2 linked regions of the Homo sapiens genome follow. The protein of the gene in region 2 interacts with the protein of the main gene of each other region in a biochemical or structural test. Each region holds a gene or a part of one and is shown on either strand. Other genes may lie near its edges.

Region 1 (7,903 bases), on a different chromosome or scaffold from region 2:
CTTGCCCATTCCATTAATCACTAAGATGGACATTCAGGGTCCTAACATGAAATAAATCAGATCCCCCAGTCCCGTGGAGCCTATAGACAGTACATGGAAATCTCCTGATGGCAACAGATTCTCTCCATTATATACTGAGCAGCACTTTTAAGGCAGCTCACAGTGCAGCCAGGAAGGCAAGACCTTGGTCCTGCAAAGCAGCCTTGGCCTCTAAGATGCCTTGTGCAAGTATCAACTAGCTTCCCCCTGAATATTCTCATGTCTTCCTGCGACTTCCTCCACCAGGTACTGGTCCTGGCTTCCTCAGTCATCTTGGCCCCTGTCCATCTCTTACCTCTTGGCATCATATGCCTTGGCACCTGGTAACCGACTAGAGCTCCTCAGCACTCTCCAGCCCTTGCCTCCAAGACTGATGGTGGCCTGTACCTGTGGACACCTGGACATCCCCCCAGGACTCTGTCCATGCCCTCAATCTGCATTTGACTTTTGCCTGCTGTTCCTGTGAACTGGCCTCTGCATGCCCAGGTTTTGGTCTTGTCATGCCCTAAGCACAGACTGGAATGACTCTTCTTTGCTCTCAGTGGTGTACTCTGTTCCTCTTCTGGGTGTAGCCTGTTCCTGTTTTCCTGGTTGCTTTGAAGGGAGGAGGGACAGGTAAAATGGAAGTACTTTTACCATGAGACAGCTTTGTCTTTTGGATGGCATCTCTTAGACAATTTATCTCCTCCGGCCATATTTTTCTTGAAACACCTTTTTTTTTCCTATGATATTGATAAAAGAGGCATTTTCCTACTTTTAGGGACATCTTCTGCCCTGTCAAACTCAATCTTCCTGATCTAAAGCCACTTTGATATCTAAAGAGCTACTCATCTATCTTTCACTTTGTGGGTTTCATTTTCTGCTTGACTATTAACCAAACAAACCAAAAGTCACTGGGTAACTTAGAAACAAAAAGGACCTTGTAAAGGGAAAAGGCTAGATGGGAGCAGTTGTGGCCACTCACCTGCTTCAGTAAACATCCCTGCTTGATAATGACCCCTCTGAATTCTTCTTTCAGAATCACATCATCATCACTGGAATTCTCTTCACAGAAGAACCCACTGTCTGGCTGTTGGAAAATCAAACAGCAAGCTAACATCACCAGTCTTAGGCACATTGCAACTTGTGCCATCTCCATTCCCCCTCCCCTCCAGCCATGAGGGCAGCCTCCTCCTTTTTCCTCCATTCCTGTGTACATCCCAATCTGAACTTCAAAGGTCCTTGATGAGCGAGTTTCTCCTCCTCCTTTTACTTGCTTCCGGGGCTGTTCCTTTCTTGTCTCCACTCAGGTGTGATCTTGTCAATATCCTTTTATTCTGGAGGGTCTCCCAAGCTGTATCCTAACTTTAGCTCCATCTTCCTAACCAGGCACATGTCTGCCTTCAAAGCCTTCCTTCTCTTGGGATATCATGGTCACATCCTTGAAAGCAGGGCAGGCTAATTTCTCATTGGCAATACTATCACCAGCTCAACATTTGCCACTGAGCCCCCTCTTGGAGAAAAGTGACAGCATGTGTCCAGCCTCTTCCCCTGAGGTTATGAGGGAAGTGGGACTTGCTCAGCAAAAGTAGATGATGAATCAGACCGAGGAAGAGGAGCCACTGTGATGGGTATTTTTAGAATCCTGCATTGAAATGGCTATAAACGACCAGATCAAAGGACTGAAGAAAAAAAAAAAACAGACTGTGGAACTTCCCCTAAAGTGAAATGAAACCCTCTAGGGTGTTCACTTCATGTTTATAAGAAGAATGGTTCTCTTAGGTAACTTCCTAAATTCTGTGCTCTGATCCAAGATAGAAACAAAACTGCCAAAATCCCCCAAGAAATCCACCATTGCTCACATGGCCTAAGAACAGGTTCACATTGTATAATATAGTGTTTCCCAATCGTGGGTAAGCATACTGTGGGAGGTACACAAGATGACTGCAGGAAGTGACATCTGTGGACACATTTTGTATTAAGAGTCATGTGTTTTAACATACATTTGGAATAATGCACTTAATACATCAAACCTGTGATTTATAGACTCCTGTCTGGAAAGGAAGCTGCAGTAGGGCAGGATTTTTGCCTGTCCCTCCAGTACGCTTGTCTACGTGGCTGTATCTTCTTGTCTTAGAGAATGCTTGCCATGGACTAGGGTCTAAGACAGTTTTATAAATGAATTATTGCTTAGAATAAGAATAGATAGTTGGGAGGCAGAGGCAGGTGGATCACTTGAGGTCAGGAGTTCGAGACCAGCCTGGCCAACATGGTGAAACGCTGTCTTTACTAAAAATACGAAAATTAGCTGAGTGTGGTGGCGCATGCCTGTAATCCTAGCTACTCGGGAAGCTGAGACAGGAAAATCGCTTGAACCCGGGAGGCGGAGGTTGCAGTGAGCCGAGATGACACCACTGCACTCCAGCCTGGGTGACAGAGCAAGACTACATCTAAATAAATAAAAAATAATAATAAGTAAATAGGAAACAATAAACTTTAAAATGTCCTTTAAAAATTTTTTTTCAAGTAAACAGTAGTATCCTTTTATAATAACAAATTCACTTGGACAGGGCGAGTGTTGTAGAGAGGGCAGCTGTTGAGTTGGGAAATGCTGGTATAACAGAAGCTCTAAATGGGCCTGGGAGCTTCAGGTATTCCCTTGTTCTTCCTGGCTGACCTCCCTACCCGCTGCCTAACAGCGCTCTATAGATGTCTATGAACTGAAATCAATCTAGAATCTGCTCAGGGCAGCCTCCCTTACAGGAAGAAGAGATGGGGAGCTTTTCTTACAAAGTAGTAGAAGGCATCAGGGTTGTCCAGGAAAGGGTTTTCAGCAGTTCCATCCACTGCACTCTTGGACATGTCTCCAGCAGGCTGCAGATACCCCTCATTGAGCAGCGATGAAGCAATCATGAGGCCTTCCTGGCGATTCCTAACAGACTGGTTGGATACCAGCCAATCAATGACGCAGTTACCTAGATGGGACCAGCACAGGGAAGGTTAACTCTCCTTACCGAAGAACAAGCCCCTGACAATCACCCCTGAACTGACTCCAGCTCACCCACAGGTCTGACTTGTCTCGTCTCCCCTGTTATTTCAAGAAAGAGAAAACAAAATAAGTGGGATAGATACCCACTAGAAACAAACAAACAAACAAAAAACTATGTAAAGGGTTTTTAAGAACATCTACATGCTGCTTAAGAAGAAACACATGACCAGGTATGGTGGCACACCTGTTGTCCCAGCTACTCTGGAAGCTGAGGCAGTAGGATAGTTGAGCCCAGGAGTTCAAGACCAGCCCAGGCAACATAACAAGACTCCATCTCAAAAAATATGTACCCTAAAACTTAAAGTATAATAAAAAATAAATAAATAAAAACAAAAATAAAATAAAAAAATAATAACTTTAAAAATAAAAAAATAAAGTCTTTGTCTTAAAAAAAAGCAACACATGCATCAAAGAAATAGGTTTTACTAACCCACTCACTTATCCCATTGATGAACAAACATTTACTGAGCACCTACTCGATGCTAGGTACTCTACTGGGTGTTGGAGAAATTCCCTCAAGGAGTGTAAAAGGGCATGATGGGTGTAATAAATAAGTCTTGTAACAAGTGCTCTGCTATAAGTCAGTTGCGAGACTACTGGGTCAAATCTGAAGGTGTGAAAGAGGTGAAGGAGGTGAGAGAAGAGGGCTGTGCATCACCATCAGGAAAAGATTCATAGAGGAAGTGACACTGGGCAGAGGCTTAAAATATGAGTAGGCGTTTGCCAAGCATATGAAGCAGGATGCAGAGGAACCAGCACAAGCTGAGGGGGCAGCAGTGTGAACAGATGCACTCAGGCATAAAGCAGCCCCATGGGGCAGGGGAGGAGTTGGTGGAAAGAAGGCAAAAGGAAATAAGAGGAGGAGGGAGGTGAAGGGTGGGTGGGGAGAGCTTTGATGGCACAGTAAGAAATTTGGCTAATGGGAAATCATTTTAAGTTTTTAAATAGGAAATAATGTGATGGATATATGTCCTAAATTAAAATTTGATGACATCACCTGCACTGATTGTCATGACTTTGCAGAGTCTAGCAGGGACCTTGAGAAGTCATTTAAGCAATCTTCTGGTCAAGAGATGATTGCAAAGAGAAGAAAATGAAATTGACCCATACATTGGATTATTAGCAGGTTACAATGAAGCTTTGTATTAAAAACAGCATGTTTGTTCTTACAACAAAAAAAGATAGATATTTGAGGTGATGGATACACTAGTTACCACGATTTGATCACTGCACAATGTATATGTGTATCAGAACATTAATTGTGCCCCATAAATACGTACTATTATGTGTCAATTAAAAAAGATAAAAATAAAAAGCAGTGTGTTCCTTACAAATGTAGCCAACAAGGGAGTCAACATGACAGCCTGCCTGTCCTGTCATCCGGGCAAAAGCAGTAGGGATGCCACCCTCAAAACAGGAGTGACAGCAGTTGGATAGCGAGCCTTCCATGAATTTCATGTATGAAAGGCTTTTGCTCACTTTTCTTTCTCTACAAAGATAAACTAAGTGACACTGCATTTCTTCTTTTTATCTTCATAGCAGCCTGTGAAAGAGGCAGGGTGGTAATTGCAGTCCTCATTTTAAGGATAAGAAAATTAAGGCTCAGGGAATCTGAGTGATCTTAGGCCAAAGTTACAACTGCTCTGGGCTGTCACTTTTAAGTGTTCTAACCCTTGCATCCACGCTCACTCAGTGAGGCATGCTGAAGCTTGAAAGACAAGTTTGGTCTAGTCTGCCTGTCATCGGACATTTAAGGTCTTCCATCATGTGTCAGTACTGCTGGGTCCCAGTCTCTGCTACAGCCTTCATCTCCCAGCCGAGGCCACCTGACTCCCCCATGAAGGCTCTACCCATAGAAATGTCCAAAACCCACCCTGGCCTTCAACAAGAAGGATTTAAGAAGTACTAGCCCACCTGTAATCTTAGGGATTACAGGCCACTTTGAGAGGCCAAGGCAGGCAGATCACCTGAGGTTGGAAGTTTGAGACCAGTCTGGCCAACATGGTGAAACCCCGAATCTACTAAAAATACAAAAATTAGCCAGGCATGGTGGTGCACATCTGTAATCCCAGCTCCTCAGGAGGCTGAGGCACGAGAATCACGCTTGAACCCGGGCGGCAGAGGTTGCAGTGAGCCTGAACAACAAAAGTGAAACTCCGTCTCAAATAAAAAGAAGAGGAAGAGGAAAAAGGAGAAAAGAAGAATAAGAACAAGAGGAAGAAGGAGGAGAAGGAGAAGGAGAAGGAGAAGGAGAAGGAGAAGGAGAAGGAGAACAAGAAGAAAAAAACCAGCCCAATAGTCTGGGACTCAGTAACACATTACAGTGGAAATCAGTCTGACCTGGATTGGGTGCCCAAGTCTACATTGAAATGCCCTCCTGTTCCCTTTGCCCAAGGCTGTTGCAGTGACCTCGGTCCTGATAGAGTTGGGAACTTCCCTTGTTCTTGTCACTTTCTCATACCACCACCCACAGCTTGGTGTCTTGATCCCAAATCTCAGCCCTGCCTTGTCTGATGCTGGGCTGCTGCCTTGACTCTGAGGCTTATTCCCACGGGGGACTATCTCATCGTCAGTGATCAAAGCCTTTTCCCCTTAGCCTTGCTGATCCTGACCTGGACCAATTTCATGGATTATCTGTTGATGGCACATCCTCTTAGATTCCACATTTGCTGTATCAGCTCAGAGTTTTCTTCCTTTGATCTCTCCTGTCACCATAAGAAAGCCAGGCCTGGTATCTGACAAACTTAGTACCAAATTGTACATCCCATTTTGCTCCCCCTGATGAACCGTCAGCCCTACTAGGCTGGTCAGTTTCTTTTTCTAGATGCATATTCTGCACATGTCTGCCTCATAACTTTGTCCTCACCATCCTTTGCCCATCCTCTGCTCATCCTCTGCCCTGGCCCATCCTCTGCTCATCCTCTGCCCTGGCCCATCCTCTGCTCATCCTCTGCCCTGGCTCCTCATTAAAAATCCTCCTGTAAATATTTAATGAAATTCTACCCATCTTTCAGGGTCAAATTTGGGTACCACCTCCTATTCATCCCATCAACCCCTGAGTTCTTTCTCTTTTTTTGAACCCCTGGAATTGGTTGTACAGACATGTGACCACTTAAAACACAATAACCACTTGAGCTTGCACCATATAGCACTGAGTGTGTGCCAGGCACTACTCTACACACATAATGGCAAGCCTATGAGGTAGGTGCACTGTGATTATCCCCACTAAATAGACAGAGAAAGTGAAGCACAGAGAGGCTAAGTTATTGAGCCAAGGTTTTATAACTAGTAAGTTGCAGAGCCAGAATTTGAACCAAGGTGGTCTGGCTCTAAAGGACATGTTTTTAACCACTACACCATACTACCTAAACTCATAACACTTAATACCTGACCCTGTGCAGCCTCTGATAGCCCTAATATTGTCATTTAAAACTTACATTGTATGCCTTAATCCCTGTTTATTGTAGTAAGGGTTGCATCTTATCCAATTCTGTGTCTATTTCTAGCAAGTCTCAACATAATGCCATTTATTGAGAAAAAAAATCCTTTGATTGGAACGTTAGCTTGAACAAATGTTAACTTGAACAAATAAAGCTTGAACAAAATCGTTAGCTTGAACAACAAACTTCTTTCTATTTTCACTCTGTAGGAGCTTCATCCTCAGGCTCACCAGGCTGCATTCTGGGACCCCTTCCAACCCCCATACTTCATACCCCCACCTCACAGACGAGGCCGAAGGAGGACTCCATATCGCCTTCCCAGTCGCCCTATTTCAGGCCTGCAAGTGCTTTTACCTGTGAAGCAGTGATTAAAAATCTTCTTGTCCTTCTCTAGATTCAGTTCTTTTATTCCTTTTTCAGTGTCTTTCATGGACAAATATAAGGCACTGCACAGAGATAAAAAAGCAAACAAACAAACAAACAAAAAAAAACCCAGTTGGATGAGTGGGGAACATTTCAGAATGGTAAGTTCTCTCTGGGAGGTGAGCACAAGCTCCCCCACCCCAGGTATCCCCTGAGCTTAATCTCCCTCCATCAGATCATAAGTAGTGGAGGGGCAACATTCATATCTGCATAACTCTGTAGCCTGCACAGCGTTTAGCAATGCTGGAAGGTACTTAACGTCTCCTAAATTCTCTTAAATTCATTCAGCTGTTTGTTGATTTAATTATTGGTTCCTGGGATGGAAATTTGCCCCAATTTAGAGGTCAAAGATGAAAGGTTCCTAGGGTCCATTTTCTACACATTCTACATCTTTAATGTCCCTCAATCCTCATATCCCAATTCTTTAATGCTCTTCAAGGGACCATCTGTGGTAGACATTGGCCTTTAAGAAAGTGAATGCTTCCACTAAGCATATGTCTTATCTTTAAAATGATGAGATATAAGGCAAAATGGTGAGAAGTTCTCATTTTTGTCCTTGAAGTAATACATCAAAGATAGCCTTACGAGAGAAGCTCTAAGCAACAAAACAGAAGGCCCCTTCCATGTAGCCTGTGGCTCCCTATAGCCCGAGCATTTTTCCCACTTAGTTCTGACAGCACTGGCCAGGACTGTGGTCACTCGATGGCCCCCATCAGCAGCTGCAGCTGCACTAGGTGCCTCGTTGGAGCTCTTTGCCAAAAAGCTTTTGTGGTGAAGGAGGCTGCTGAGTCTCACTCAGCTCAGTTCACAAACTTTGTCAAACTCCTGTGCCATGCCAAGTCTTGTGTCGTCATGCAGAAGTGCAGAAGGGATGTCTTTAGGCTCCTCTCAGTGCTTCTCCCCACCCCACCCTCCATAAAAACAAAATTCTTGTTGGACATTTTAAGCAGCTGGCATGGGATTCTTCTCAACA
Region 2 (8,191 bases):
GAAGGTAGCCAGGTGTGGAGGCAGCCGCGGCCCTCGGGAGCCTGAAGGAGGTTTTGCTGAGGCTTTCGCCCTCATGTGGAAAAACGTTTTGGTGGAAACAGAACTACAGCATGACGGCTGCCCCTCCGCCAGCCCATGTGTGCCTCGCTCTCAGGTATCCCAGCCAGGCTCGGACAGACGGAGAGGCCTGCTCTGGCCAGGGCCCAGCACGCGGGTGCCTTCTGTCGGTGGCTGCGTCCACCACTGCTCTGGCTGGAGAGCCTCAGATGCCAAGGGTGCGGGTGGCGGGCACTGCCCCTCCGCCCACCTGCACATCGGCCAGCAGGAGGGGACTGTGGGGTCCTCCTGCGGTGCAGAGCCTCCCGTCTCCACCCAGCCCTGTCGGTTTCGCGTCTAAGTGAGCTCTGATATTAGGGGCGCACGTTCACGACCGCTATGTCCTCCCAAAAAGCTGACCCCTTATCATCGTGAAATGACCGCTCTCAGCCCCGACAACACGCTCGTTCTGAGGGCACCCTGACATGCAGACAGCCACTCCTACTTTCTTCTAACGACTGTTTTACAAGGTACATCCTCCTCCGTCCCTTCACTTTTAAAATACCTGTGTCTTTATATCTAAAGGAAGCTGGAAAGAGCTGAGCGATGGTCCCCATGAGGAAGAGGTAGCTGGCGACTGGCACAGATGAGGCTCCCATGGCAGGGCAGCACGCAGAGACGGGGAGCAGAGCCCCACTCTTCCGAGGATGATGGGTGGCAAGGAAGGGCCTTCATGTAACTTGCTTTCAGCAATCGGACCTTGGCCTGCGTTGGTATGTTTATTCGGCTTGAAGCTTGTTGCAGTATTTGGATCTTTCTGTAAGTTTCATGGACTGATGAAGAAATCTGAGCCATGACATCTGTAAGCATCACCCTGTCTGCCTCCTTTCCCCGCTCCTCCTGGGGCTGCAGCCACACGTGTTAGGACACCTGGTATTTCACAGTGATTTCTATCCACTTTTCAGTCCTTCTCTCTGTTTCACTTTAATTTTGTGGCTGTCTTCAAGTTCAGTCACCTTCTCTTTTCTTCTGCAATGTCTAATTTGCTGCTCCCCCAGTGGTGTTTTTCTTTTTCATCTGAATAAGCCCCTACTTGGGAAACACATTACGTTGGGTCATGGCAGAGGAGAGTGAGAGGGTCAAGGAAGCTGCCATTTTATGGAAAGGATGGCAGAGCTGAGAGAAAGAAGCTGGTAGGGAGGAGGGACCAAGGGGGAGAGGGAGGAGGGACCAAGGGGGAGAGGGAGGAAGGCTGACAGGAGGAGCTACATCCTGAGCACAGGGGTGAGGGCCTTGGCTCTGGTGTGAGTGGGGGCCCCGTGGTCCCCGTGTGCCCCACAGAGCGTGAGGAGAGGCCGCTTGTGTGTGGGCAGCTGCTTGACAGGGCGAGGGTCGGAGACCGAACGGGGGATTCCCGGGATTGTACAGACTCCACTACTGGTGGGGACCACGCATGACAGCTGTGTGACCATCTCAGGGACAAGGACATTGATCAACTGGCACTGGATGCCCAAACAAGTGAGATGGCCCTTGAACCCAAACAGCAATGAGAGTCCCACCTGCAGGGCAGGGGGGCACTGGAGAGCGAGACCCTCAGCACTGCAGCCTACGGGGGCCCACCTGGGAGAGGGCAGATTAACAAGGGCCTGTCACGTGACGGCGCAATGACGGCTAGTGGGCGCTGATGCTGGGGACAGAAGGCCAGAGATGGGGGAGAAGGATGCAGGGCCTCTCCAGAGACGGGGGAGATGGAACCAGGCCGGGGGACCCAGGGCCTCCCCAGAGATGGGGGAGATGGACCCAAGCCGGGGGACCCAGGGCCTCCCCAGAGACGGGGGAGATGGACCCAGGCCGGGGGACCCAGGGCCTCCCCAGAGACGGGGGAGATGGACCCAGGCCGGGGGACCCAGGGCCTCCCCAGAGACGGGGGAGATGGATCCAGGCCGGGGGACCCAGGGCCTCCCCAGAGACGGGGGAGATGGACCCAGGCCGGGGGACCCAGGGCCTCCCCAGAGACGGGGGAGATGGATCCAGGCCGGGGGACCCAGGGCATAAAGACGGGATTTAAGACGTGGGTCTCTGAACCAACAGCAAGTTATTCACGACCTGCAGAGTGTCCCCTCCTCTGAGGAGCTTCCTGCCCCTTCCCAGACACCTGGTGCCTGTATCTCTGTGGCTGCCACGTCCACCAGGGCCACCCTCTCATGTGTCCACCTGACAGAGGACCGCAGAGGAGGGACAGGTCTTTCCCAGCCCTGTGGAAGGCTCTGTCCCACTCCCCCTGTGCTCACCCTGAGGAACAGCCTCTCTCCGAGGCAGGACACCGCCCCAGCCCTGCACACTCAGGGATCAGGAAGGGACGGACCCAGCATGGGAGCAGGGCTGGCGACGGTGGCTCTTGAAGCAATACCGGCTGCTGTCCAACCTCTCATCTACACGCCTGGAGCCCCGGACTCCCTCTTATTTTCATGCACGCTGAGGCCCTGGGCCTCTCCCCACCTGTCACTCCCCAATTCCCTCTTGGGCTTGGTCTGGAGCCCCAAGACCCTGTGCGTGCTGGGCCACCTTCCCTGCCAGGCCAGCCATGGGCTCAGACCACGAGCAGACCACCAAGCAGGCTGCGGGAGTGCCAGGCAGGGCAGCGTGAGTGAGGCTTCAGGCAGGGAGCACCCCGACCTCTCTCCATTTACACAGGAGAAGGGCTGGCTTCTGCCAAGGCCAGCCTGTCTGACCCCTGCACCAGGCAGCGGGAGGGACTCACCGTGAAGTGCTCCTGGGATTTGTAGTTTTCATCCAGGTAGACTCGAGCCCTGTTATATTCTTTCATCGCATCACTCGACAATAGTTCTCTGGAAGGAAGAAAGTAGGTTCCTGAGGAAAAGCCACACAGACGCCTTGCACCTCATGAGATGACCACAAGGTATAAGAGGGGCTCCAGCACATAGGTACATCACCGTGAGACCATCCACCCGTGACAGGCAGAGGGCAGGGAATGGCGGCAGCCACCGCAGGAGCTGGCCTCACGTTCAGCTCTCAGCATGTGCAGAGCTCAAGCTCCCACAGGCTCTGGTCTCCACGCAGCCTGTGAGATGCCGGGGTCTGAGGCATCCCAGGGATGGAGACATTGAGAACTCACCCAAGGTCTCATGCCAGGGAAGCGCAACTCCAAGCTCTGGGGGCTCTCCTGATAGCTCACGCTTGGTCTTAAGAGAGAAATTGGACCCCCAGTAGCCACCAGCACACACAGGTTGGGGCACATGCACCCCAGGGCCCAGGTAGTTCTGTCCCCATCTGCTCCTCCCAGAAGTGGCAGCGAGAATGGTGGTTGAGTTGCCACGGCCTTGCAACCACACAGGAGGGAAAGGACCTCTGGACACGCCATTGTCCCCGACCGTTCATCCTACTGGTCACATTTTATCATCAGGAAGGCCTTAAGGAGACAAGCTCACCACCATCTCCGCAAAGCATGGCTGCACAGGAGGCCACCGCACACCCCTGGAGCCCATGAACGGAGGACGAGGCCCCGTCTGCCTGGCCCCTCCACAGAGACAGTCCATCATCCCCCTACCCACGCATGCTTATTCAAGCCAGTGGGGAGAGAGGAGACCAGCACCCTGTGATCCAGCCAGTCCATGTGTCAGGAAGAAGGGGGGTCCACATTGAAGAAAATAAAACTGCACCAGTAGAGAAGGGCAAGGCAAAGAATGCCTTGACAGACCCACACTGATCCCCATGTGGCTTAACTGTTGGTAAACACAACCTTCAACACGCTTTAAAGGAAGAAAACAGGGCTCAAACACTAAACAACGTAACATTCGCAATGTCTGCCATCCTACGGAAAATAACTTGATATGAGAAGCAGCAACACCACGTGAATGTGTCCCGTCATCCTACGAAGAAGCCGTCAACAGAAACAGACCCGGAAGAGGCAAAAATGACGGAGTGAGCTGAAAGCAACTGGGAACAGTCATTGCAACTGTGACCAGACAGCGAAAGGAACGCACAGACGGAAGGAAAAGCGAGGACAGGGAAAGCACACGTGAGGCTTCTGGAAGGAGTGGACAAACACAATGTCAGAAATAAAACGAACTGACTGCATGGACCTAAGAGAAGATCAAAATCTGCAACAGAAAAGAGCCCAGCCACTTAAAAATACAGCAACAGAGGCGATCCAAACCGAAACACAGGGAAAATGAGCTGAAAACAATCAGAAGAGCTTTAGGGCCCTGTGGGGCAGAACCAGGCAATCTAACATCAGGTAACTGGAGCCTAAGAACAAAAGAGAAGGGAAGGAAAAGAAAAATAGTATTTAAAGAAATAATGGACAAGGACAAATTTTCCCCAAATTTGATTAAAACGATAAACCCACAGACTGCAAATGCTCAAACGGCCCCAAGCAAGATAAACATAAAGAACATCAAAGCAAAGTACAACATAATCAGGTTGCTGCAAACCAGCTATAAAGACAAAACCTAGCAGTGGAGGAAAGGGCACATTATATACAAGAAAATTAAGAGAGAACAATGGCGAGATTCTCGCCAGCAACAATGCAATACAGAAGACAATGGGGCGATATCATTAAAGTAGTGAGAGGAAAAAAAATTGACAAGCTAGAATTCTATTTACAACAAAAACAGCTTTCAAAAATGAGGACAAAGACCTTTTTCAGATAAACAAAAGCTGAGAAAATTCATGAGCAGCTGACTTGTGCTAAAATAAATGTTAAAGAACGTTCTTCAGGCAGAGAGAGAAGGGTGCCAGATAAAAAGCAGAATCCACACAAAAGGGCGGAGGGCACTGAAAGCCAGTGAACTGGTCCACACCAAGGGCGTTTCTCTCACGTCTTAATCTTTTAAAAAGAAAATTGTTTAAAGCAAAAATCATAACGCTGTACATTAGGCATAAAGCGCGGAGGAAGGAAACACACACGGCATCGCGGGGGCACAAGGCCGTGGGGGCCACACTCCACTGTGAAGCTCTCACACCAAACACGGCGGCATCGTTCCCGTCCGGCCTGCGGTGTCCCCGCCTGCTGTGAGGGCGGCGTCCTCCGTGCTCAGGGTGCACCCCCACTTTCTCTCCTCTGGAAGGTGCTTCCCAACAGGGGCTGCTTTCCTTCTCTTACCGACTTACTGAGTTCTTCATATATTTAAACACTCGTTTTTGTCAGTAAGGTGTGCTGCAGATATCTTTTCCCGAAGTGGCTGAATTTTGATTTTGTTTTGAGTGACTTCATTTTGAGTGACTTCATTTTGAGTGCCTTTTCATAAGCAAATGCTTAGTTCAAACATGGCCACATTTTTCAGCCTTCCATTCTGTAGGCTGCACTTCCTGCACATTTTAAAAGAAATCTCTCATCCCAAAACTATATTTTCTCCTATATTTTAGACTGAAATTTTTAATGTTGCCTTTTACATTTATATAATTAATACAACTGAAATTCATCTTATGTAGGGTGAGTGAGAAGTGGCTGCTTATGACACAAAGCAGGGATCCAATTTCATTTTTCCCAACAGGACACCAATGATGCCGTGCCCCAGCCCATGTCCCCACCCACCCTCCTCCAAGGCAGCCGCGAGGGTCTGGGTGGGGCCTCGACTCCGCTCTCCACTCTCTGGGCTGCGCACCTGCCTCGATCCGCTCTCCTCTCCGGGCCTGCGTCATGCCACCTGCCCCACTGCTTCTTCGGAATGAGCCTTGGGGTCGAGCTGGGTGAGAACCCACTTTGTTTTCCTTCAGGATTCTTTTAACTATTCTTGACCCTTTGCTCTTATATGGCAATTTTAGTATTAGTTTGTTGAGTGTTAGGAAAAATGCCGCTAAGATTTTGATTAAAACTGCCTTAAACTGGCCAGGCATGGTGGTTCATGCCTGTAATCCCAGCACTTTGGGAAGCCAAGGCAGGCAGATCACAAGGTCAGGAGATTGAGGCCATCCTGGCTAACATGGTGACACCCCATCTCTACTAAAAAAACACAAAAAAATTAGCTGGGTGTGGTGGTGGGCACCTGTAGTCCCAGCTACTCGGGAGGCTGAGGCAGAAGAATGGCATGAATCCAGGAGGCGGTGCTTGCAGTGAGCTCAGATCACGCCACTGCACTCCAGCCTGGGCAACAGAGCGAGACTCCGTCTCAAAACAAAAAAAAAAAAAGAAAAAAAAAATGCCTTAAATTACAGATTATTTTGGGAAGTTGTGGCAGTTTTTTTTAGCAGCTGAAACCACTTTGCTCTGCTCGAGGACCCTGCGCTGGGAGTTCAACACGGAGGGCTTATGTCACAGCAAGGATGCAGCGGCTGGGATCGCCTGAAGCCTCGCTCACACTCACACTGGCACCAGGCCGGGAGGGCTCGACGGCTCTGCCCACAGGTCCCGACTCCGGGTGGCTGCATCGACCCACAGAGCATGGCAGCAGCGTCAACCCACAGAGCGTGGCAGCAGCGTCGGCCCACAGTGTGTGGCAGCGGCGTCGGCCCACAGAGCGTGGCAGCGGCGTCGGCCCACAGAGTGTGGCAGCTTTGTGAAGCTCTGCGATGTTGGGGGCTGGTCCCAGAAGCCCTCATGCTGTGAAGAAGCCAGGGCTTGCCCAGGGTCTGGAGGTGGAGACGAGCCCCCAACATGGGAATGTGCCAAGGCCACACTGTAGGGGACACAGAGGGCGGGCTTCACGGCTGCGGCCTCGGGAAAATACAGCAGCCACTATTAGCAACAGCCTATAGGAGGCCCCATGTCTGAACACAAGCCTGCCTGCCCCTGCCTGCTCCTGTCCACTCCTGGATGCCCCAGGTCCGGGCGCCCCCTCTTCCCAGGCAGGACCCAGTTGGGCCGGCCCTGTCAGAAGCCTCAGGGCATGTACAGTGGGAATACACGTGGGGCACCTTCCTCCTAAACGATGGAGATTTCGCCCCCAAGGAGGATAGACGCTCCCTGCCGACCTCCTTGAGACAGACTGCGCAGTGGGATGTGAACCCCGGCCACCACAGGCCCAGGCCTCAGACACACACACACGGAGACGGCTCCACTGGTATCTGGGGCTCACGTCCCCTGGCCCGAGAGCACAGACCCTCGCCGTGTGGAGGCAGCAGGCTGTCACTCCGTGGCCTTCTGTCGCCGCCCCAAGGAGGCTCGTGGCCACACGTCTGGGCCACTCCTCTCTTTGGAAAACTGAGACTCAGCCAAGATGACCCCCAGGTGAGTCCCGAATGGTGAGGCTGGTGATCATAGTACCATGAAAAGACCCCCGCCGGCACCCCACACCCCTGGGAAGTGGACATGCACCAGCACCTGCCCCTAGACTTACTTGACGAACTTGTCCACGTGGGACATGGAGGCCTCGTAGTTCTTCCCTCCAAACTCCTGACAGTGCAAGGCCATGAAGTGCGGCTTGTGTGTGTGCACGACCTGGAGGGAGAGAAGCACACTGTCAGGGTCGTCGGAGCCGTCCACAGAGCCACACGTGGCACCACCCCCTCCACCGCCCCCACAGCCTGGGAGCCACCAGGGTCTGGCAGAGACGGGGCCCCATGTCTGCGACCATGGGTTCTGGACAGATTCTAGGAGTCACGTCGCCTTTGTGCTTCCAGTTATTTATATTTCCAGTGCTTTTCATTTTCCCATTACTGTAAATTCCATAGAAAAGAGTCCAGATTTCTCAGAAGCCTCTTCAATCATCTAGAGGCCTTATTTCTAGTTAAAAAAATGTTATGCGTGTTTACTGCAGAGCCTCTGGGAGCCTCAAGATCAACTGGTCACAATCTCACCAGGAAGGCAGCCATTAGCAACACCCAGGCACAACCCCAGCAAGGGTGCACACGTGTGCATACGTGTGCGGGAGCACGTACCAGCACGCGTGTGCCGGAGCATGTGTGTGTACACATGTGCCTGTGTATGCATGTGTGTTCACGTGTGTAGGAGCCAGGCACTCCGCCGCCTGCTCACAGCCTGGGAGGACGCCGACACACAGCAGCAACTCACGCAAGGCCACTTCCACTAAGTGGCAGAGCCGGGAACCTGAGCCTGGCATCACGGCCACTGGTGCCCCTGCCCCGCCCGCCCCATCAAGGCTCCCAGGCCCCCGACATGTCTCTGAGGTCCCCAGCAAGGATTCTGACTCAAGCAATCACCGCTGCAGCGTGCTGAATCTGTCCCAAACTTTTA

What was found. Proteins that work in one complex are often made in the same cells at the same time.
Region 1: the proteins of INPP5A (region 2) and PLEK form a complex in vitro, tested with the Homo sapiens proteins (one study listed by IntAct).

The regions. Positions count from the first base shown.
Region 1 is NC_000002.12:68,381,592-68,389,494, reverse strand, and holds part of PLEK (pleckstrin), read right to left. Parts: intron 6,954-7,903; coding exon 6,862-6,953; intron 2,994-6,861; coding exon 2,809-2,993; intron 1,109-2,808; coding exon 1,004-1,108; intron 1-1,003. UniProt on the Homo sapiens protein: Major protein kinase C substrate of platelets.
Region 2 is NC_000010.11:132,645,112-132,653,302, reverse strand, and holds part of INPP5A (inositol polyphosphate-5-phosphatase A), read right to left. Parts: intron 7,436-8,191; coding exon 7,335-7,435; intron 2,886-7,334; coding exon 2,798-2,885; intron 1-2,797. UniProt on the Homo sapiens protein: Phosphatase that specifically hydrolyzes the 5-phosphate of inositol 1,4,5-trisphosphate to inositol 1,4-bisphosphate, and inositol 1,3,4,5-tetrasphosphate to inositol 1,3,4-trisphosphate. Plays a crucial role in the survival of cerebellar Purkinje cells.